Linked DNA regions of Homo sapiens. The protein of the gene in region 1 interacts with the protein of each later gene in a pairwise test. Each region holds a gene or a part of one and is shown on either strand. Other genes may lie near its edges. The genes, in order: PSMD9, KLKB1 and CCDC136.

Region 1 (7,444 bases):
GTCAAGGTGGCCGGATCACGAGGTCAGGAGATGGAGACCATCCTGGCTAACACGGTGAAACCCCGTCTCTACTAAAAATACAAAAATTAGCCGGGCATGATGGCAGGCGCCTGTAGTCCCAGCTACTCGGGAGGCTGAGGCAGGAGATTGGCGTGAACCAGGGAGGCGGAGATTGCAGTGAGCCGAGATCGCGCCACTGCACTCTAGCCTGGGCAACAGAGCAAGACTCCGTCTCAAAAACAAAACAAAACAAAACAAAAACAAAAATTAGCTGGGCGTGGTGGCGGGTGCCTGTAATCCCAGCTACTTGGGAGGCTGAAGCAGGAGAATTACTTGAACCCAGGAGGTGGAGGTTGCAGTGAGCCGAGATCGCACCACTGCCCTCCAGCCTGGCGACAAAGCAAGAATTCGTCTCAAAAAAAAAAAAAAAAAGTGCTGCATAAGCCTAGTAATCCTGGAGACATTCAGTCCAGGAGAGGGAGTCCACAGGGAGGTGGCCAAAGGGCACCCCTGCTACAGGGCTCTTGCCAATTGGCTGGGTTTGGGAGGAAGACCCAATGCTACAAAATCTTTGATTTTTCCAGAAAAGCTGAAAATTGGGATCTTTGAAGTGAAATTCTCTGATTTTTCAGTACAGATAGCTAATTCAAAATGTTGTGAACCACCATGGCAATCTGCAGGCCACGCCAGCACAGCAGCTGGTATTTTGATACCTTGTGCCTGTCAGTGGGATTGCGGTACTACCTGACCTGCCTCCTCTGCCACTGTCACTTTGGAGCAAAGGCAAGACCCTCAGTCATGAAGGGATTCAAGTTCTCAACCCACAGGAGCAGATGTGGGAAAAGAACCCAGATCTGAACAAGTGGAGACATGCACTTGGGAGGCAGACTTACATAATACATGGTCACTTTCACTAGAAAAGCCCTCCCCCAGTGAGGTCCACAGCATCCCTAGACTCTGCAATGCCTGGCACAGGGAAGTGCTCAATACACAGCTGTTGGGGAATGGAACGAACGACTATTTACAACATATTACAATTCTAATCAAAATGTTGAAAGGGTTTTTTTCAGTACAAAATGTTTCTGCAGTGTATTTCAAAAAACAAATTTGCAATTATAACAAACGTACCATATTAACATAAGCTGTTAGCTGGGCGCGGTGGCTCATGCCTGTAATCCCAGCACTTTGCGAGGCCGAGGCGGGCAGATCACCTGAGGTCAGGAGTTCGAGACCAGCCTGGCCAACATGGTGAAATCCCGTCTCTACTAAAAAAATACTACTAAAAAATTAGGCCAGGCATGGTGGCTCACGCCTGTCGAGGCCGAGGCGGGCGGATCACCTGAGGTCAGGAGTTGGAGACCAGCCTGGCCAACATGGTGAAATCCCGTCTCTACTAAAAAAATACTACTAAAAAATTAGGCCAGGCATGGTGGCTCACGCCTGTCGAGGCCGAGGCGGGCGGATCACCTGAGGTCAGGAGTTCAAGACCAGCCTGGCCAACATGGTGAAACCCTGTCTCTACTAAAATATAAAAATTAGCCGGGCACGATGGCGGATGCCTGTAATCTCAGCTACTTGGGAGGCTGAGATGGGAGAATCACTTGAACCCGGGAGATGGTGAGTGCAGTGAGTGAGCCGAGATCATGCCACTGCACTCCAGCCTAGGTGGCTAAGCAAGATTCCATCTCAAAAAAAAAAAAAAAATTAGTCCGGTGTGATGGTGGGCACCTGTAATCCCAGCTACTTGGGAAGCTAAGGCTGGAGAATCACTTGAACCTGTGTGTATACACATGTGTATATATTTGGGAGGCCTCAGCCTCCCAAAGTGCTGGGATTACAGGCATGAGCCTCTGTGCCCAGCTTATGCAGCATTTTTCCTTCTAGAGGATTTCAGAGAAAAGTGAAATCTTGGTTACACCCAGCCTGAGTCATTCACTCATATGTGTATTTTGCATATATACACGCATGTGTATATTTTACATACACATGTATGTGTGTATATATTTACATGTATGTGTAGATATATACACATGTATGTGTATATATGCTGTTAACAACACGGGAGATTACATACAGAAGCCAAAGGACCTATGCATTATTTTCCAATTTTTTTTTCTTTTCTTTTTTTTTTTTTTTTTGAGACAGAGTTTCACTCTTGTTGCCCAGGCTGGAGTGCAATGGCACAATCTCGGCTCACGGCAACCTCCGCCTCCTGGGTTCAAGTGATTCTCCTGCCTCAACCTCCTGAGTAGCTGGGATTACAGGTTCGTGCCACCATGCCCAGCTAATTTTGTATTTTTAGTAGAGACAGGGTTTCTCCATGTTGGTCAGGCTGGTCTCGAACTCCCGACCTCAGGTGATCTGCCCACCTCGGCCTCCCAGTGTGCTGGGATTACAGGCGTGAGCCACCGCACCCAGCCATTATTTTCCAATTTTTATGTAAATCTATAACTGTTCTTTAAAAAGGGCTGTTTTGAGAATAGATTTTCTTTCTTTTTTTTGAGACAGAGTTTTGTTTGCTCTGTCGCCCAGGGTGGAGTGCAGTGGTGTAATCTCGGCTCTTTGCAACCTCTGCCTCCTGGGTTCAAGTGATTCTCCTGTCTCAGCCTCCCAAGTAGCTGGAATTACAGGCATGTGCCACCACATCCAGTTAATTTTTCTATTTTTAGTACAGACAGGATTTTGCCATGTTGGTCAGGCTAGACTCAAACTCCTGACCTCAGGTGATCTGCCCGCCTTGGCTTCCCAAAGTGCTGGGATTACAGGCATGAGCCACCGCACCCGGCCGAGAACAGATTTTTCAAAAAAAGACCAATAAGGAATTGCTCAAACAGATTTTTTTTTTTTTTTTGAGACGGTCTCTTGCTCTGTCACTCGGGAGGTGGAAGTTGCAGTGAGCCAAGATCGTGCCACTGCACTCCAACCTGGGTGACAGAGCGAGACTCCGTCTCAAAAAATAAATAAATAAATAAGATGTGATGCAGATGGAATCAAGATTCAAACAGATTAAAGAGGAGTTAGTAAGTGAAAAATGTGGAGGATAAATGCTAATAGGACTCTGTGGTGGAGACGGTTGCCTACCTATGGCTGAGTGGATAATGGCCCCCAACACATCCACATCCTAGCCCCTAGAAGCTGGGAATATGCCACCTTACATGGCAAAAGAGGCTCTGCAGATGTGATTAAGGACCTTAAGATTCGGACATGATCCTGGATTATCCAGGTGGGCCTGGTGTCATCACAGAGGTCTTTATAGGTGAAAGAGGGAGGCAGGAGAGTGAGAGAAAGAGATGTTATGACAGAATCAGAGGGAGGGAAATGCGACTGCTGGCTGTGTAGATGGACGAAGCCATGAGCCAAGGACGGTGGGCAGCCTTTGGAAACCAGAAAAGACCAGGAACAGGTTCTCCCCTAGATCCTCCAGAAGGAGCCAGCCCTGCCAACACCTTGATTTTAGTCCAGTGAGACCCATCTGGACTTCTTATCTCCAGCTACTAAGTCTGTGGTCATTTGTTATGGCAGAAACAGAAACAAATATACTATCCAATCTGTACTCTCTGCTAGCTCTTTAATTAAAAACAAATCACGTCATTTGTTATGGCAGAAACAGAAAACAAATATACTATCCAATCTGTACTCTCTGCTAGCTCTTTAATTAAAAACAATCAGCACCTTGGAAGGCCAAGGCAGGAGGACCACTTGAGTCCAGGAGTTCAAGACTCACCTGGGCCACTTAGTGAGACTCGTCTCTACTAAAAAAAATTAGCCAGGCACAGCGACACATGCCTATAGTCCCAGCTACTTGGGAGGCTGAGGCAGAAGGAGCACTTGGAGCCTGGGGGGTTGAGACTGCAGTGAGTCATGTTAGCACCACTGCACTCCAGCCTGGAAGACAGAGCAAGACCCTGACTCAAAAAAAAAAGAGAGAGAGAGAGAGAGAGAAAATGAAACCAGAAATATAGAACCTTAGAGTCTAGCCCATTCCCTTGGTTCTCAGTCCTTGGATGGGGACAAGACAATCCCATCAAGGCAGAAGAGAAGGCAGTAGATAATACAGATAGTTGGTTTTATTTGTATGCCTTTAACACCTTCCCACCACAAGGTGGGGAAAGTCTTCTAAGAGGGCCACTCACATATGATGTTGTGCCTGGCGGTGCGGACTTGGTACAGGTCCACGTCTGACCGGGGGTAGCCCTCACAGTCCACCAGCGGCTCGTTCATCCCAATGCCTTTTTGCTGGAGGAAAGAAACGTGGTTAAAAGGTGCTCATGGGTGTAATGTCCCCAGGATGTCTTTCCCCAGACCCTTCTCCTCTGAAGTCATAATAAAGGTGACAGTAATGAAAACTGCCACATACTGATCACTTACACCAGGGGCTCTACTCATGCCCTCACAACTACCCTGGGGTGGGCACTGTGTTTTTCATTTTTTATTTTTAACGACGCAAGTAATGCATGAATCCATTCTTTTTTGAAGTTAAAACAGTGCCGATAAAACCAAAGACTCCTTTGAGCATCATCCCCAAGGCCAGCCTCTTCCTCCACTCCTTCACACCCTCCTTCCCACAGGTGGCTGACACCTGGCTGCTGGCCCTGGAAGCTAGAGGGGAGTGAAAAGCCCAGACAGCACCCAGCTGTGGCAGGGCTTTGATTCTTCTGAAAATAAAAAGATCTGAAGAAGGAAACTGATAGCACCAGCTGCCTCCGGGGAGAAGAACTGGGTGGCTAGGTGACAGGGCAGGGAGAGAGACAGTCCATTTTATACCCCTCTGTAGGTTTTGAATTTTGCCTATGGGAATGTATTCTTTATTCAAAACAACACTTTTTTTTTTTTTAACATGAGTCAGAGGAGAGTACACAAAAGCAGTGAAACCAGTCACATGGTTCAGGGGAGGGGCTTTGCAATTGGTTAGACTTTAATTTGAATCTCAACTCTGCCATGTACAAGCTGGGCATCCTTAGCTGAGACCTTCTCCTCTCTAAGCCTCAGCTTCCTCAATTATAAAATGGGAATAGGAGCACTCGCCTCCCTCCCTACCTGCTGCAAGAACTAACGAGCTGACCTGCAGAGTACTTAGCACATGCCACGCGCATACACAGCATAGTGGGTTGAAGAGCGGCCCCCAAAAACAGATAACCACGAGCTAACCCCCAGAACCTGTAAATATGACTTTATTTGAAAAAGAGTCTTTGTAGATGTAATTATGTTAAGGATCTCGAGATAAGCTCATCTGGTGGCTGGTGTCCTCATAAAAGAAAGGCAGAGGTAGGTGTGGGACAGACACAGGAGGAAGGCCACATGAAGATGCAGGCAGAGGTTCAAGTGACACAGCTGTAGGCCAAGGACCGCCAGCAGTCACCAGAGGCCAGGAGAAAGGCTTGGGAGCTTCTCTCTCAGAGCCTGCAGAAGGAGCCAACCCTGCTGACACCTTGATTTCAGACTTCTGGCCTCCAGAGCTGGGACAAAGTAAATTCCTGTTTTAAGTCACCAACTCTGTGGTGTTAAGGTGGCCTCAGAAAACGACTACGCGCAGAAGTCATAAATAGTGGCTGTAAGGATTAGTCAGTCCAGGGACAAGCTGCCAGTGTACACAGGCACTGAGAAGAGGGATTCCATTCATTTTGCTCCCTTTCTCTCTGGAAGCCTCCGGGTTACACCCAAACCTACTGTCCACTGCGCAGGGAGATAGTTCTCCACACTCCCCTAACACAGGACTCGCCGTGACACTGCAGAAATGCGCCAGGGGCTAAAAACCTGTATCTGCTCCTGCCTTCCCACAGTGGTTAAGGGTTGACCAGCCTTTGAGAATCAATATCACATTGGATAATGCTTCTCAAAGGATGGGATCCATAACACTAGCAGCTCACACACACGGCATTAAATAACCCTGAATCAAAAATACATATTCCTCTCCCAATTCTCTACAATCCTGCAATTGTCAAGGCAAAAGTGTCCATTTGGTGCTGGTCTCTGCAACACCCCAGTTACTTGCTATCTCTAGTACCCTCTGTTTTTATAACAGTTTTATTGAGATATAATTCAGATACCATATAACTGACCCATGTAAAGTGTAAAAGGTAATGGCTTTTGTGTTTGTATTGGTTTGAGACAAGATCTTCTGTTGCCCAGGATCGGGTGCAGTGGTGTGTTCATAGCTCACTGCCGCCTTAAACTCCTGGGTTCAAGCGATCTGTCTCAGCCTCCTAAGTAGCTGGGACCACAGGCACATGTCATCACACCTGGCTAATTTTTAATTTTTAATTTTTTTTTTTTAAAGACAGAGTCTCGCTCTGTTGCCCAGGCTAGAGTACAGTGGCGAGATCTTGGCTCACTGCAAGCTCCGCCTCCTGGGTTCAGGCCCTTCTCCTGCCTCAGCCTCCCGAGTAGCTGGGACTACAGGCGTCTGCCACCACACCCGGCTAATTTTTTTGTATTTTTAGTAGAGACGGGGTTTCACCGTGTTAACCAGGATGGTCTCGATCTCCTGACCTCGTGATCTGCCAGCCTCGGCCTCCCAAAGTGCTGGGATTACAGGCATGAGCCACCATGCCCGGCCTTTAATTTTGAATTTTTTGTAAAGATAGGCTCTTACTGTGTTGCCCAGGCTAGTCTCAAACCCCTGGCCTCAAGTGATCCTCCTGCCTCAGACTCCCAAAGTCCTGGGATTACAGGCATGAGCCACCACGCCTGGCCATTGACCATTTGTATTGACCATATTTTCTTTGGAGAAATGTTTATTCAGATCCTTTCCCTGTCTTCTAATTGGCTGTCTTTTTATTATTGAGTTGTAAGAGCTCTTATTATAGTCTAGATACTATCCTCTTATCAGAGAAATGATATGCAAATATTTTCTCCCATTCTGGAGCTTATCTTTTCATTTTACTATGCCCTTTGAAACACAGTTTTAAAGTTGAAGTCCAACTTATCATTTTTTCTTTTGTAGCTTGTGTTTTTGGTGCCATATCTAAAAAGGCTTTGCCTAATCCAAGGTCATGAAGATTTACTCCTATGCTTTATTATACGAGATTTATAGTTTTAGCTGTCCACTTCTTTTTTTTTTTTTTTTTTTTTTTGAGATGGAATCTCTGTCACCCAGGCTGGAGTGTCGTGGTGCAGTCTTGGTTCACTGCAACCTCCGCCTCCCAGGTTCAAGTGATTCTCTTGCATCAGCCTCCCGGGTAGCTGGGATTATAGATGTGTACCACCACACCTGGCTAATTTTTGTATTTTTCGTTGAGACGGGGTTTCACCATGTTGGCCAGGCTGGTCTCGGACTCCTGACCTCAAGCGATCCACACACCTCGGCCTTCCAAAGTGCTGGGATTACAGACGTGAGCCACCATGCCCAGTCTTTTTTTTTTTTTTCTTTTTTCTTGAGACGGAGTCTCGCTCTGTCACCCAGGCTGAAGTGCAGTGGCGCAATCTTGGCTCACTGCAAGCTCCA
Region 2 (7,444 bases), on another chromosome or scaffold:
TGTATTTTTAGTAGAGTCGGGGTTTTACTATGTTGGTCAGGCTGGTCTCGAACTCCTGATCTTGTGATCCACCCACCTCAGCCTCCCAAAGCGCTGGGATTACAGGCATGAGCCACTGCGCCTCGCCCTTCATTTTTTAATTAAATAATTCATTTAATTTCATTTGTTTCTCTACTCTTTTCCCCTGGCATGTAATTGTACCGCATCTTCAAAGCCTGACATCCTCTTCCCCTACTTCTCCAAAGCTGATTCTTGCAGGTCTTTCCTCAAATACCGTCCCCTCCAAAAGCCCATTTCTGAGCATTCTCTTTTAAGTCACACTCAGCTCTGTTTATTTCATTCATAGAGCTAATCACAATTTGATATTAACTTGTGATTTTTTTCCTTATTTTTAAATCTTATTTTTATTTGCATAGATGTATGGGGTACAAGTGTAATTTTGTTACTTTGATGTATTTTACAGTGGTAAAGTCTGGGCTTTTGGTATATCCATCACTGGAGTCATGTACATTGTACCCACTAAGCTATTTTTCAACGCCCGCCCCCTTCCCACCTCTCTGTCACCTTCCCAGTCTCTACTGTCTATCGCTCCATGCTCTACTCAATTTTGGTGTCATTTTTTCCTGAAGCAAAATTTTGGTGTCATTTTTTCTGAAGTCATTTTCTGAAGTCTGTGTCATTTTTCGCTTTCCTGAAGCGAATTTTGGTGTCATTTTTCCTGAAGTTCCGTTTGCCCCACACATAGGCCTTGCTTATAGAATGAGGGTTTAGTGTCACGGAGTCTCCTGCCTCATTCTCACCCTAACTTTTCCTTTACCCCTTTGCGAGGGGAAGGATGTCCATTAGGTTAATAATGCAGACCCCTAACCCACTCATTATCAGGGTCATTGTTTTTCCACTGTGCATTTTAATACTAACTGTTACCTGCACTGCTCCCTGCCCCTCAAAGTGCAGAAAGCAAAGTAACCTCTTTTCTTCCCATTCAGGAACAATTGCCTATTAAAGTACAGTCCCGGAGGAACACCTACCGCTATAAAGGTGCTGAGTAACGTGGAATCTGGATTCTCACTGAAGCCCTGTGCCCTTTCAGAAATTGGTAATTGTAGGACTACTTCACTTTGTGATTGTGGTAGGTGGAATAGGAGCCCCCAGAGACGTCCCTGTGCTGAGCCCTGGGACCTGTGCGTGTGTTCCCATAGCTGGCAAAAGCGTTTCTGTCAATGGCATGCAGTTACGGGCTTCGAGATGGGGAGTTTACTCTGGATTTTCTGAATGGGCCCAATGTACTCACAGGGTTGAGTGCTCACAAGGCTCATAAGAAAAAGAGAGAGGCGGAAGGCTCAGAGCCAGAGAGAGAGGTTTGAAGGTATTACACTGCTGGCTTTGAAGATGAAGGTCCGTGAGCCAAGGAATGCAGGCGGCCTCTAGAAGTTGAAAAGGGCGAGGAAAGAGTTTCCCTGTGGAGCGTCCTGGAGGAAGAAGCCCTGCTGATGTCTTGATTTTAGCCCAGTAAGACCCAATCTCTAGAACAGTAAGATAATTAATTTGTGTTGTTTTTAACCACTAAGTTTGTGGTTATGCCCCTAGAGCAGCAGTTATAGGAAACTAGTACAGTGATACTGTTAGAGTTATAGGACAGTGATATAGGACAGTGATACTGTTATAGTTATAGGAAACTAGTACAGTGATACTGTTAGAGTTATAGGACAGTGATATAGGACAGTGATATTGTTATAGTTATAGGAAACTAGTACAGTGATACTGTTAGAGTTATAGGTACAGTGATATTGTTATAGTTATAGGAAACTAGTACAGTGATACTGTTACAGGTACAGTGATATAGGACAGTGATACTGTTATAGGAAACTAGTACAGTGATACTGTTAGAGTTATAGGTACAGTGACATAGGACAGTGATACTGTTATAGTTATAGGAAACTAGTACAGTGATACTGTTAGAGTTATAGGTAGAGTGATATAGGACAGTGATACTGTTATAGTTATAGAAAACTAGTACAGTGATACTGTTATAGTTATAGGACAGTGATATAGGACAGTGATATTGTTATAGTTATAGGAAACTAGTACAGTGATACTGTTAGAGTTATAGGTACAGTGATATAGGACAGTGATATTGTTATAGTTATAGGAAACTAGTACAGTGATACTGTTAGAGTTATAGGTACAGTGATATTGTTATAGTTATAGGAAACTAGTACAGTGATACTGTTATAGGTACAGTGATATAGGACAGTGATACTGTTATAGGAAACTAGTACAGTGATACTGTTAGAGTTATAGGTACAGTGACATAGGACAGTGATACTGTTATAGTTATAGGAAACTAGTACAGTGATACTGTTAGAGTTATAGGTACAGTGATATAGGACAGTGATACTGTTATAGTTATAGGAAACTAGTACAGTGATACTGTTATAGTTATAGGACAGTGATATTGTTATAGTTATAGGAAACTAGTACAGTGATACTGTTAGAGTTATAGGTACAGTGATATAGGACAGTGATATTGTTATAGTTATAGGAAACTAGTACAGTGATACTGTTATAGTTATAGGACAGTGATATAGGACAGTGATATTGTTATAGTTATAGGAAACTAGTACGGTGATACTGTTATAGTTATAGGTACAGTGATATTGTTATAGTTATAGGAAACTAGTACAGTGATACTGTTAGAGTTATAGGTACAGTGATATAGGACAGTGATATTGTTATAGTTATAGGAAACTAGTACAGTGATACTGTTATAGTTGTAGGACAGTGATATTGTTATAGTTATAGGAAACTAGTACAGTGATACTGTTAGAGTTATAGGTACAGTGATATAGGACAGTGATACTGTTATAGTTATAGGACAGTGATATTCTTATAGTTACCGTGGTATAGTTATAGTTAAAGGTACAGTGATATTGTTATAGTTATAGGACAGTGATATTGTTATAGTTATAGGACAGTGATGTAGTTACAGTGATATAGGTACAGTGATATTGTTATAGTTATAGGACAGTGATATAGTTATAGGACAGTGATATTGTTACAGTTATAGGTACAGTGACGTTGTAATAGTTATAGGACAGTGATATTGTTATAGTTATAGGTACAGTGATGTTGTAGCAAAACTGTAAGGTCATTCCTTGGTTGTGTCCCTATCTAGTGAAATGACTCTACCAGGGGTAGGGAAATAAAACTCTGTCGTTTCACACATAAAGGTAATTTCAATGGAATTATCCAGAAAATTGCCATGACATTCCACCTCATTTAGCATGTCAGGATGTTAATGACAAGATGTTACTAAAAGCAAATCCCTTACGGCCAGTTTTCCGCAGTACTGGGTGCTGGCTCTGTGCCTGGCCCTGTATTGGGTGCTGGGCTAGGATTTCCCTGTGGAAGATTGGGAAGGTTGGTTACAAGGTGGCTATTTTCCTGTCTCCTCTTTGCGACAGCACACCTTCTCCATGGTGTGTGCCAGGTTCACGTGTACTGGTGATTTAATTTTAACGTTCATATTATTTTTTTCTGGGAGAGTTTTTGAAGGCTGCCAGGAGGCAGGACTCGATGCAAACATGCTCCATTCTGTACCCAGCCCTGTTGCTGGAAGGATTTGCTGCACTTACCCAGGGAACAGGCAAGCTCGTGCTGTGGCTCTGGGCTGTCACAGCTGCTGTCCACACCTGGGAGAGCACCCTGGATGGCTCATCTGTGTACTTGCTTTCTTGTTAAATTGCAGTGAGTTCACATGTGATTTAATCGGATCAAATGGCCTTTACAGACTGATAAAAATATGGCTGTTTCAGGTGGTGTTTTGAGCTGCTAAGGGCGTGGCTTTTCACTGAGTACGTGGTCCCCGTTCCTCAGGGAACACCCAGTAGCCACATGCCTCCTAAACCTAGAGTAGGGCTGTCTCCTGGCCTAACTGCCCAAATGAGATTCATAAGTTAGGGATGATCTGTAGTTATCACTACAGATTTGTCCTTGGTTTCACCAAGGATTTTCCTAATTTTACAAACAAAACCCCTAAGGCTCCTGGAAGGAGGGTAGAAGTGAAGGTGCTCCGGGGGCAACACAGCTGATGAGCTGAACCAGAACTCGACCCTTGGGTCACACACATTTCACAGTGCTCACTCCACCTTTTGTTTTTTTAATGGATTTAATGGTGTTTTAAAGCCTCCTGCCTCTCAACACATATGAATTCATTATATTTACAGATTTCCTTCTCTTGTGGTCCATCTTCCTGCATAGATCTTGAGAGATGTCAGGCTAACCACGTTTCCTCAGTTAATTTAACAAAACCATTTGCAACTCTGACATGGAAAATTCCTACCATGTGACTTATTAATTTATCAATTGAGATGGTACACATATTTTCAAGCCAAAAGGAGGAAAACATAAATTGGAAAAAAAAGGTTTTTTTATTTTTATCACCTCTGGGGAAGAAAGTCTGATAAACGAAGCTGGTTGATAAAATTGCAATTAGGGGAAGCAACATCATGGTTTCTGTTCGGAGGCTAACCAGATGGCATACTTGAAATAGAGAATGTCCTAGAAATCAACTGGTTGCTTGGCCAAAATATCTATAAATAGTGCCCAACATATTAGATAGGAAAAGCAAAGTAAAAACAATTTTAACAGGTTAGGACATTGGGCTGAAGTATTGCATATATTTAATGTCATGTGCGTCCGTGTGAAGAGACCACTAAACAGGCTTTGTGTGAGCAAGAAAGCTTTTTAATCACCTGGGTGCAGGCAGGCTGAGTCCGAAAAGAGAGTCAGTGAAGGGAGATGGGGTGGGGACGTTTTATAGGATTTGGGTAGGTAGTGGAAAATTACAGTCAAAGGGGGTTGTTCTCTGGCGGGCAGCGGTGGGGGGTCACAAGGTGCTCAGTGGGGGAGCTTCTGAGCCAGGAGAAGGAATTTCACAAGGTAACGTCATCAGTTAAGGCAGGAACCGGCCATTTTCACTTCTTTTGTCTTTCTTCAGTTACTTCAGGTCATCTAGATGTATACGTGCAGGCCTGGGCCCAGAGGCCTGACATTCCTGTCTTCTTATATTAATAAGAAAAAGAAAACGAAATAGTGGTAAAGTGTTGGGGTGGCGAAAGTTTTTGGGGGTGGTATGGAGAGATAATGGGCGATGTTTCTCAGGGCTGCTTCGAGCGGGATTAGGGGCGGCGTGGGAACCTACAGTGGGAGAGATGAAGCTGAAGGAATATTTTATGGTAAGGGGTGATATTGTGGGGTTGTTAGAAGCAGCATTTGTCATATAGAATGATTGGTGATGGCCTGGATATGGTTTTGTGTGAAATGAGAAACTAAATGGAAGACACAAGGTCTGAATAAGAGAAGGAGAAAAACAGGTGTTAAAGGACTAAGAATTGGGAGGACCCAGGACATCTAATTAGAGAGTGCCTAAGGGGGTTCAGTGTAATTACTTGCTTGGTTGGTGAGTTTTTGGGCTCTATCCTTGACAGAGTCCTCCTTTTTAAGTTGGAGGCTGAGCTTGGTGAGGTGTGTTTTTAAAAGACCATTAGTCTGTTCTACCTTTCCTGAAGATTGAGGATGGTGAGGGGTATGAAGGTTTTACTGAATACCAAGAGCCTGAGAAACTGCTTGGGTGATTTGACTAATAAAGGCCGGTCTGTTATCGGATTGTATAGAGATGGAAAGGCCAAACTGAGGAATTATGTCTGACAGAAGGGAAGAAATGACCACGGTGGCCTTCTCAGACCCTGTGGGAAAGGCCTCTACCCATCCAGTGAAAGTGTCTACCCAGACCAAGAGGTATTTTAGTTTCCTGACTCCGGGTATGTGAGTAAAGTCAATCTGCCAGTCCTGGGCGGGGGCAAATCCCCGAGCTTGATGTGTAGGGAAGGGAGGGGGCCTGAGCAATCCCTGAGGAGGAGTGGAGTAGCAGATGGAACACTGAGCAGTTATTTTTTGAGGATAGATTTTTACGACGGAAAGGAAAAGTGAGGTTTTAAGAGGTGGGTTAGTGGCTTGTAACTTACATGGAAGAGTTTATGAAATGATGACAGAATAGAATGGGCCTGTGAGGCTGGAGGAGATATTTTCCTTGGTCCAAGAATTATTTGCCTTGTGTGGGAAGAGATTGATAGGTGGAAGTTTCAATGGGGGAGTAGATGGGAGTGACAGATGAGGAAGAAAAAAACTGGCTGTGAGGGATAGAAGTTGGAATGCTCGCTGCTTTTTTAGCTACCTTATCAGCATAGGCATTGTCCTGAGCAGTGGGATCTGATGCCTTTTGGTGGCCCTTGCAGTGAATGGCTTCAGCTTCCTTTGGAAGTAAAGTGGCCTTGAGAGGAGTTTTTATTAAAGAGGCATTAAGATGGAGAACCCTTGTGTAGTGAGGAAACCTCCTTCAGCCCATATAACCGCATGGTGGTGCAGAATATGGAAGGCATATTTAGAGTCAGTATAAATATTGACACGTAGTCCCTTTGCAAGAGTGAGGGCCTGAGTTAAGGCAATGAGTTCAGCTTGCTGAGAGGTAGTGGAGCGGGGCAGAGCAGTAGCCTCAGTGATAGATGTGGAAGATACTACAGCATAGCCTGCCTTTGCTGGTGAGTGGTGATTAGGCCTGGTGGAACTGCCATCAATAAACCAAGTGTGATCAGGGTAAGGAACAGGAAAGAAGGAAATATGGGGAAATGGAGTGGATGTCAGGTGGATCAGAGAGATACAGTCATGGGGGTGGGGGCCAGCCTAAAACAGTAAGGTCAAGTTGTTTGAACAGAAAGGCTACAGGGCGTGGTCCTGGCTCTTGTGTAAGAATTTTGACTGCGCAGCCCTGCACTTCGGCTGTGTGTAATGAAAAGGGTTGGGATGAGTTAGGGAGAGCTAGTGTGGGAGCAGTTTCTAGGGCTGTTTTTAAGGAATGGCAAGAGGAGTGGCTAAAGGATTTAGGATCTTTGGGGTCAGCTAGCTTTGCTTTTGTGAGTTTATATAATGGTTTAGTCAGGATGGTAAAACTTAGTATCCAAAGGCGGAAGTACTTAACCATACCTAGGAAGAAAAGGAGTTGTTTTGTAGAAGGGGTTGGGGTTTGGGAGATGAGCCAGACACAATCAGCAGGGAGAGCACATGTGTTTTCATGAAGAATTATGCCGAGATAGGTAATGGATGAGGAAGAAATTTGGGCTTGACTGAAGTAATGGGGGCTGTCCTCGAAGCCTTGTGGCAGTACAGCCCAAGTAAGTTGCTGAGGCTGACGGGTGTCAGGGTCAGTCCAAGTGAAAGCGAAGAGAGGCTGGGATGAAGGGTGCAAAGGAATAGTAAAGAAAGCATGTTTGAGATCCAGAACAGAATAATGGGTTGTGGAGGGAGGTATTGAGGATAGGAGAGTATATGGCTTTGGTACCATGGGGTGAATAGGCAAGACAATTTGGTTAATGAGGCACAGATCCTG
Region 3 (7,444 bases), on another chromosome or scaffold:
GGGGCAGTTTGATGGGGAATGCTATCGATGCCCCTTTCTCATTTCCCCCTTCCTCTTCTCCGGCCCTTTCCTTTATACACCATATTCCCACCCTGTTGGGAACTCTTAGCTCCTGTTATTCTCATTAACCCCAGTTGTTTTTTAATGCAACTACACTCCTTACAAATAAGGACTTAATTTCACCCTAATTTTTCCCATTTTTGCTTTCCTAATTCTCTCTTTAAATCTTTAGAAAGTATGCGCTATTGGTAAATTTGGGTTGAGAAGACTAAATCATCCCATTTCCAAAAACCCAGATCTTCTAATATCAGACAGATCTCAATGCTGTTTTACGGCTAGAGAAAAAGCAGGTGCTGTCTGCCAGCATGCTTCTCCTTTCCCATCATTTTTCCCATTAGGGGAAGAGGTGACGAGCAAGTCACAGATCACCTGGGCTCCTAAATTGAGTAGCAGTGGAAAAAGGAGGAAACGTGAGCCTGGATATAGAAAGGCAAAGAGACTGCTGAGGTGGCCCAAATAACCTTCCCAGTCCTCCGTCTCCTGAAGGCCTTTCCCCAGGGACAGGAACTACTGAGTTTTCTGGCAGAATGTGACCAACTCCACCATCGTTAGAGACTCTTGGGCCTCTTCTCCAACATGCTTCAACACCTTTCCATTTCCCATCAGTAATCAGGAGCTGAAAGTGCTCAACAGGATAAATGATAACGGCTTGCATTTTATACACTATGGAAAAGAAAAAAAATGAATAAGGCCTTATTTATCACTACCAGGATTTACTGCTAAAAGGAAGTGAGTTAAGAGTAGTATTCTCTTCCATTTAAAGAGGGCACAATTCAACCTTCCACAATTTAATTACTGGCAGGGCATGGCGGCTCATGCCTGTAATCCCAGCACCTTGGGAGGCCGAGGCAGGTGGATCACCTGAGGTCAGGAGTTCGAGACCAGCCTGACCAACATGGCGAAACCCGGTCTCAACTAAAAATACAAAAATTAGCCAGGCACAATGGCATGTGCCTGTAGTCCCAGCTACTTGGGAGGCTGAGATAGGAGAATTGCTTGAACCCAGGAGGCGGAGGCTGCAGTGAGCTGAGATCGTGTCACTGCACACTCCAGCCTGGGCGACAGAGTGAGACTCCATTTCATAAAAAAAGAATTTAACTACTTCAAAGTCACAGAATAAATCCTAGAAGAGCCTAGGTCCTTCTCTTGCCCAATCAGCACTCTGGGCACAAGACCGTACCCCTTTATAAGACCATTTGCAATCTGACCCAGAAAACTGGCCCCTTTCTCTAGTTCCAACAATAATATTTGTGTAATGGGCCCATGTATATGTTCCCCTCCAAGAATGACTAGATATCACTACAGTTCTAATACCATTGTATAAATGTCTACATACATGGAATCATGTGTAAAACTTTCAGGGGTTCAGACTGGGATCCAAAGGTATTGATCCTACTAAGCTGTGGCTCTGGCTCAAAGTCAAGGTCAGGGCAAACAATTTTGAAGTTAGCAGCATGTGGCCCTGCCTCTGCTTCCTGCCTAGGAAGGCCATCAAGCCCTTGGGTTGGGTGCCTTCACTTTTTGCCTCTGTACCTCTTCTCTCTGGAGCAAGTGCCCAGGAGCTGTCACCTCTCTGAACGACAATTACCTTATTAGCACACTTTCCTTTGTCCTCCGGAATGGGGTGGGAGGCCTTGAGCTCTTTCAGCTCCAGCTGGCAGAGCAGGAGGTCCTGCTCCAGCTGGTCATACATGTGCTTCTGCCGCTCCAGCTCGTCCTTGCTGGCCTGGTACAGCTGCTTCATCTCCTGAAGCTGAGCGTGCGTCTCTGTGTCCTGGGCAGGGGAGGCAGGCCTGGCCATCATCCCAGGCACTCCTGCTGCTGGACTCTCTCCTCCCAGGCGGGGACTAAGGGGACCCATCTTCCCTTGTCCTTCTCAGCCCCAATTTCATCCCAGCCAGGGATAGATACCCAAGATGGACCCGTCCCTGACAGGCTTGAAACACAGACCTTCCCAGTGCAGCCTTTCCAGTTAAATAAATAAATAAATAAATATAAAAATAATTTAAAAAGAAACACAGACCTTCTGGGGCTTCCTTTTTTGGGAGGTGGGGAGGCAAAGGGACTTCCTTTTTATATGCTGCTTTTCTGATTTAAAATCAAAGGAAGCTGAGAGCCTTGTGACTCCCCGAGGTCACCTTTCTCCTAAGCACCTCTTTGGCCCCCTCACTGCCAGCTCCTCCACACTCCTACCATTCCCTCTCGTCCTCTGTGCTCTCACCCTCACACAAGATGATGCCTGGCTACATCCTCCCTCACCAGGAGCTTCTTTTACCTTCTCATTGCTCTCTTTGAAGGAGGCCACCGTATCCCTGAGGTGCTGCAGCTCTGCCTCATGGCACTGCAGCTCCTCCTGCAGCTGCTGCTGCCGTTCCAGCAGCTTTTCCTTCTCACATGTGACGTTCTGGTGCTGGAGGTGCAGCTTCTGCAGCCGGCACAGTAACTCCTATGGTAGAGGGGGCTTTGGGCAGTGCCTTTGGGCTCCTTAACCCACTCACTCTTCTGTGTGAGTCACTTGAAGACACCAACAGTCTAAGATTTGCTTCTTCCTGCCCTTCACTTCCTAATGTCCTCATATCTAATGTAGTACTCGAGCAGGGCTGGAGTTCTTTACCTGTGGTGCTGCCTATGTGGTTGCTGGAATTATTTTTAACTCACTACTCTTATCCACCTTCCCCAAAACCTCAGAAGGATGCCCTTAGCACCTAAGTTGTCCCCTCACCTCTGGTTGCTGTTACCTTCTCACTCTGGTTTTCTACAAGTGTGGATTTCATGACTTTGAGCTGCCGGAGCTCAGTCTGAAGTTGCAGCTGCATCTTCAAGAGCTCGTTCTGCTCATCCTGGCTAGTATCATATTTTTTCTGCAGGGTACAGAGTCTGGACTTCAGCTCCTCATTCTGTGGTAGGGAGGATGTGAGTAGAACAGTTACTCTCAAGAAACAGCAGGTCTTTCTACGGATCAGTTGGGTTCCTTTTCAGATGCAGACATCTTGAGGAGCTCCCACAGGTCTAGGGTTTGGTTTCTTCTGTGAGATGGACACTCAGTAATGACCACCATTTCTAGAATGCAGTGCTATATGACTTCTACAGTTGGTTTCCAGCAGACTGTGCCCAGTTGCAGGGCAAGAGTCAGCAGAGCACAGCCATACTCACTGTGCCCACCCCGGTTGAAGCAGCCCCTCCATGAGGCCCTTCTGCCCCCACCCCAGATGCCTCCCCGGGCAGTGTTTACCTGGGTGACACTGTGGGAGGTCTGAAACCGAAGCACCTCATTCTGAGCACACTTGAGCTCCCTCTGCAGCCGCCTCTGCTCCTCCTCACTGACCTGGCGATGATGCTGTAGCTCTTCCAACTCACAACACAATTCCTGACACTATGTGGGAAATGGAACAGGGAGGCTTGTTTACTACAGATACCACATATGCTCCAAGAACAAGCTTGGGGAAAGCATGGCGCTCTTTGACTGGAAGATTTACATCAGGCAAGTGAGACCCCAGAGTACTATCTCCCTCCACAGTGGATGCCTATGGAGATGTTTCTACCACAGGCTGGGAGAAGGTGAAAGAAAGACAAGAAATGTGCCTGCCTTCCCCACCCTCTGTGCCCTACCTTGTTCTTCATGCCATGCATCTGCTCTTCAGCATCCCGTAGCTGCTGCCGTAACAACTGCATTTCAGGATCAGGCTCTAAGAAATCCATTTCTGAAGTCTGAGACTCTGCTGACGTCATACTCAGTGTTTGGGACTGCAGCCATCTCTCTGTTGCTCTCTGTGTCCTGCAATTCAGAACCGCAGAGCTATGCTTGAAGGGAGTTCTGCCTGGCATCACCAGCCATGCAGGCTTTGTCCTGATACCTTCATTTTAGGCCAAAGATAGTAAGGGGCCTTCTATTGTGACTCACCGCTCAGATAAACATGCTTAAAAGACTACAGAAAGTCTCCAGCCCCTCAATCTGCAAAGGTGTGTTTGGCTCTGGGAGACCCTTAGAGTGCCAGTCCAGTTAGTTTTGAGGCTAGGCCTAGTCAAGCCCACTCCAATCTGGAAGCATTGTGCCTGCCATTAGACTGAAACAAGTCTATGCAGACAATAAAAGAATCTCTTCTGATCCACTTTAGGGCAGAGCAAACCAGAACCCAGTGCCTAGAGCAGAAGTAAACTTCAGAACTCACTCCCTCTAGTCTTGAGATAATTGGGTCGGATCCCCATGTCTGCTTGTAGGTGGTATCTGTATCCTTTGGAAACCATGGAAAGGACTGGGTCTCCAGGAGCAAAGGAACGCTCACTGCCCTGGCATCTGCCTTCAGGGAAAGCCCAAGGTAAGGCAGAGTCCTGTGGAACCCCATGACCTCTCACTCTCCAGAGACAGCTGTACCTCTCACTCTCCAGATCTGCAAGCTGCCCCGTGAGGCTGCTGTTGCTCTCCTGCAGGGCCCGGTATTCCTCATTCAGGAAATGGTAGCGTTCCCGCAGCTCCTGCAGTTCTTCTGCAGAGGACAGGCAGAGAGAGATGAGACCGGGAGGAAAGGAAAGCACTGATGACCAGCCCCCAGTTTTCCTGTCTTGAAACCTGAGAGCAGAAGGTTAAAGAGCTTCTCTTTTTCTAAAGACAGAAAAAAGGTAGAGGCTTAGAAGACAGGGCCCAGGAAATTCCACAGTGCAGTGAGTCTTTCTCCTCTTCCCAATAGCTGTCCTTCTTCTCATCTGCCCTGAAGATTTACCCTGTGTGCTCATCTTCAAAGCCTCAACCGAAGCAGACTCTTGAACTTTTAGCAATTTTTGAAAGTTTAATTAACTTTCAAATTTTTACTGTATGTAAAAACTTTCAAAAGTTTACTGTATGTAAAATTTCCATTCAACTGTTTATGATTACCTTCCAATTATGCTTTTAGTACAAAAAGCTGAGAGATGTGAACTGTCAGATGTGACTGCCAGTACCTGCCTTTCAGGCATTCTGAGTTTCCTTTTATGTTCTTTATTCCCACACCAAATACATTGGTCTGGATGTGGTAAAGAATTCTTGCCAGGTGTAGTGGCTCAAGCCTGTAATCCCAACACTTTGGGAGGCCGAGGTGGGCAGATCACTTGAGGTCAGGAGTTTGAGACCAGCCTGGCCAATATGGCAAAACCCCTGTCTCTACTAAAAATACAAAAAGTAACCAGGCGTGGCGGTGCATGCCTGTAGTCCCAGCTACTCAGGAGGTTGAAGTAGGAGAATTGCTTAAACCCTGGAGGCAGAGGTTACAGTGAGCCAAGACTGTGCCACTGCACTCCAGCCTGGGTGACAGAGTGAGACTCTGTCTCAAAAAAAAAAAAAAAAAGGAATTCTTTCTAATGGCCTTTTATCTGCTGACAGGCCCATCCTAACCAGACTCACATATCATCCTCAAGCATTAGAAGAGATCCGGTTGAAATACTCCAGCACATGTCTCTAAGCACCAGTCACCTATACCTATACTTTTTCCTTTTTGGTTTTGTTTTGTTTTGAGATAGTCTTACTCTGCCATCCAGACCAGAGTGCAGTGGCACAGTCATGGCTCACTGCATCCTTGACCTCCCTGGACTCAGGTGATCCTCCCACCTCGGCCTCCCAAGTACCTGTGACTACAGGCACACACCACCAAGCCTGGCTAATTTTTGAATTTTTTTGTAAAGATGGGGTTCCGCCACATTGCCCAGGCTGGTTTCAAATTCCTGGGCTCAAGTGATCCACCTGCCTCGGCCTCCCAAAGTGGTGGGAGTACAGGCATGAGTCACCATGCCCACTTTTAAGGCTGTGATGATACAAACACCTGTATCTGTTTTGTTGCTTCATGACTAAGAATTATGTTGGCCGGGTGCAGTGGTTTACACCTGTGATCCCAACATTTTGGAAGGCCAAGGTAGAAGGATCATTAGAGCCCAGGAGTTCGAGACCAGCCTGGGTAACAGAGCAAGACTCTGTGTCCACTAGCAAAAAATTGAAAAAGAATTATGTCTCTTAGAACATTAATTCTACTGATATTTAAAGAACACTAACTTGCTCTAATTAGAACACAAGACCTATCTTACCTGCTGGAAGATTCAACACCCTAAAAGTAACTTCTAATGTTTCCTCTTAATTCTAATCAGAATTCCTTAGAATACTGCAGATTACCATATAAGGGAGGAAGGAAACTAATCTTTAATGAAAACTAACCATGCGCTAAGCATTAGACTTGATAGTTTCAGCCTCAGATTTGGTAAGTGTGCAAGTGATTTCAACATGCTTCACATTTCATTTAATTCCCAAAATAGCTCTGTAAGGTTTTTTTCTTCTTTAAATAAACTTTGAATTTTAGAATAGTTTTAGATTTACAAAAAAGTTGCAAAGGTAGTACGGAGTTTCCTGGGAGGGTTCTCACCCAATTTCCCTAATTGTCAACATCTTACATTACCATGATATACCTGTCATGACTAAGGAATCAAATATTGATACATTACTATTAACTAAACTCCATAGTTTACTTGGATTTCTCTACATTTTCCCTAAGGTCCTTTTCCTGTTTCAGGATCCCATCTAGCTATAAGGTTTTATTAACCAATTTTGATTTCATATCCTGGATATAGAAACAGGCTCAGAGAAAGACCATAACCAGACCTCCTACGTTCATCCTGCTAATTAGTGGAGCTGAGATACTGAACTCAGGTCTGTTTGACTCCAGCCCAAGCCTTCCCACTGTGCCAACCTTCTTCTCCCAGCACCATTTAATCTAAAGGCTCTTCTGAGAGGCTTGATACAGCTGGAAAAACTTGCAGTTCTTTGATTCCTTGTTGATTGCCTCTGCTTGACCTGGCCAAATATAGGACCTCCATTATACTCAGATTATAAATCTAGCCTCAGAATAAAGGCAAACTCTCTGATGTCATGAATCCTAGCAACTAGCTGGGAGACTCACTGTCTGAAAGCAGGGCTCTAGGCTTTTGGGTACCTCATGTATCACTCAGAATAACTTTTCTTCTCTAGCTGTCTTTTGTTCCGATTTGTTGCCCCCCAAAGCTTCTATTTTGAGGAGAGCTAATGGAACCTAAGAATTAGCATCCCTGCACCTGGAAGCAGGGCCAGAGGCCCCCTATAAAGCATTCCAGGCAAAGCACCATGATGCCAGGGCAGCAGGAAGAGTTTCCCAAGGTGACAGGTCCCTCTTTGCCCATCCTAGAGCTGGAAATTTTCCCAGGAAGGGTTTTCCCATAGTCAAATCAACAAAGACCCAATGACTCTCTGAAGAATTCCCAGGGTACCTCTCCATGGTGCTATTTCTTACACCACCATGGACTGGTTATGTAACATCTGGGTAGGTTTTTCCCCTTTACTGTCTTTTTAAAATTTTTATTTAAATTTTTCTTTTAGAAAGAGATAGGGTCTCAC

The links.
Region 2: the proteins of PSMD9 (region 1) and KLKB1 interact in binary tests that used the Homo sapiens proteins (3 or more experiments, as listed by UniProt).
Region 3: the proteins of PSMD9 (region 1) and CCDC136 interact in binary tests that used the Homo sapiens proteins (3 or more experiments, as listed by UniProt).

Annotation. Positions count from the first base shown.
Region 1 is NC_000012.12:121,891,531-121,898,974, reverse strand, and holds part of PSMD9 (26S proteasome non-ATPase regulatory subunit 9), read right to left. Parts: intron 4,237-7,444; coding exon 4,134-4,236; intron 1-4,133. UniProt on the Homo sapiens protein: Acts as a chaperone during the assembly of the 26S proteasome, specifically of the base subcomplex of the PA700/19S regulatory complex (RC).
Region 2 is NC_000004.12:186,237,270-186,244,713, forward strand, and holds part of KLKB1 (plasma kallikrein isoform 1 preproprotein), read left to right. Parts: intron 1-986; coding exon 987-1,096; coding exon of another isoform or gene 1,097-1,129; intron 1,130-1,135; exon of another isoform or gene 1,136-1,776; intron 1,777-1,895; exon of another isoform or gene 1,896-3,225; intron 3,226-7,444. UniProt on the Homo sapiens protein: Participates in the surface-dependent activation of blood coagulation. Activates, in a reciprocal reaction, coagulation factor XII/F12 after binding to negatively charged surfaces.
Region 3 is NC_000007.14:128,801,750-128,809,193, reverse strand, and holds part of CCDC136 (coiled-coil domain-containing protein 136), read right to left. Parts: intron 4,545-7,444; coding exon 4,433-4,544; intron 3,836-4,432; coding exon 3,670-3,835; intron 3,434-3,669; coding exon 3,293-3,433; intron 2,958-3,292; coding exon 2,799-2,957; intron 2,507-2,798; coding exon 2,336-2,506; intron 1,835-2,335; coding exon 1,649-1,834; intron 659-1,648; exon of another isoform or gene 430-658; intron 1-429. UniProt on the Homo sapiens protein: May play a role in acrosome formation in spermatogenesis and in fertilization.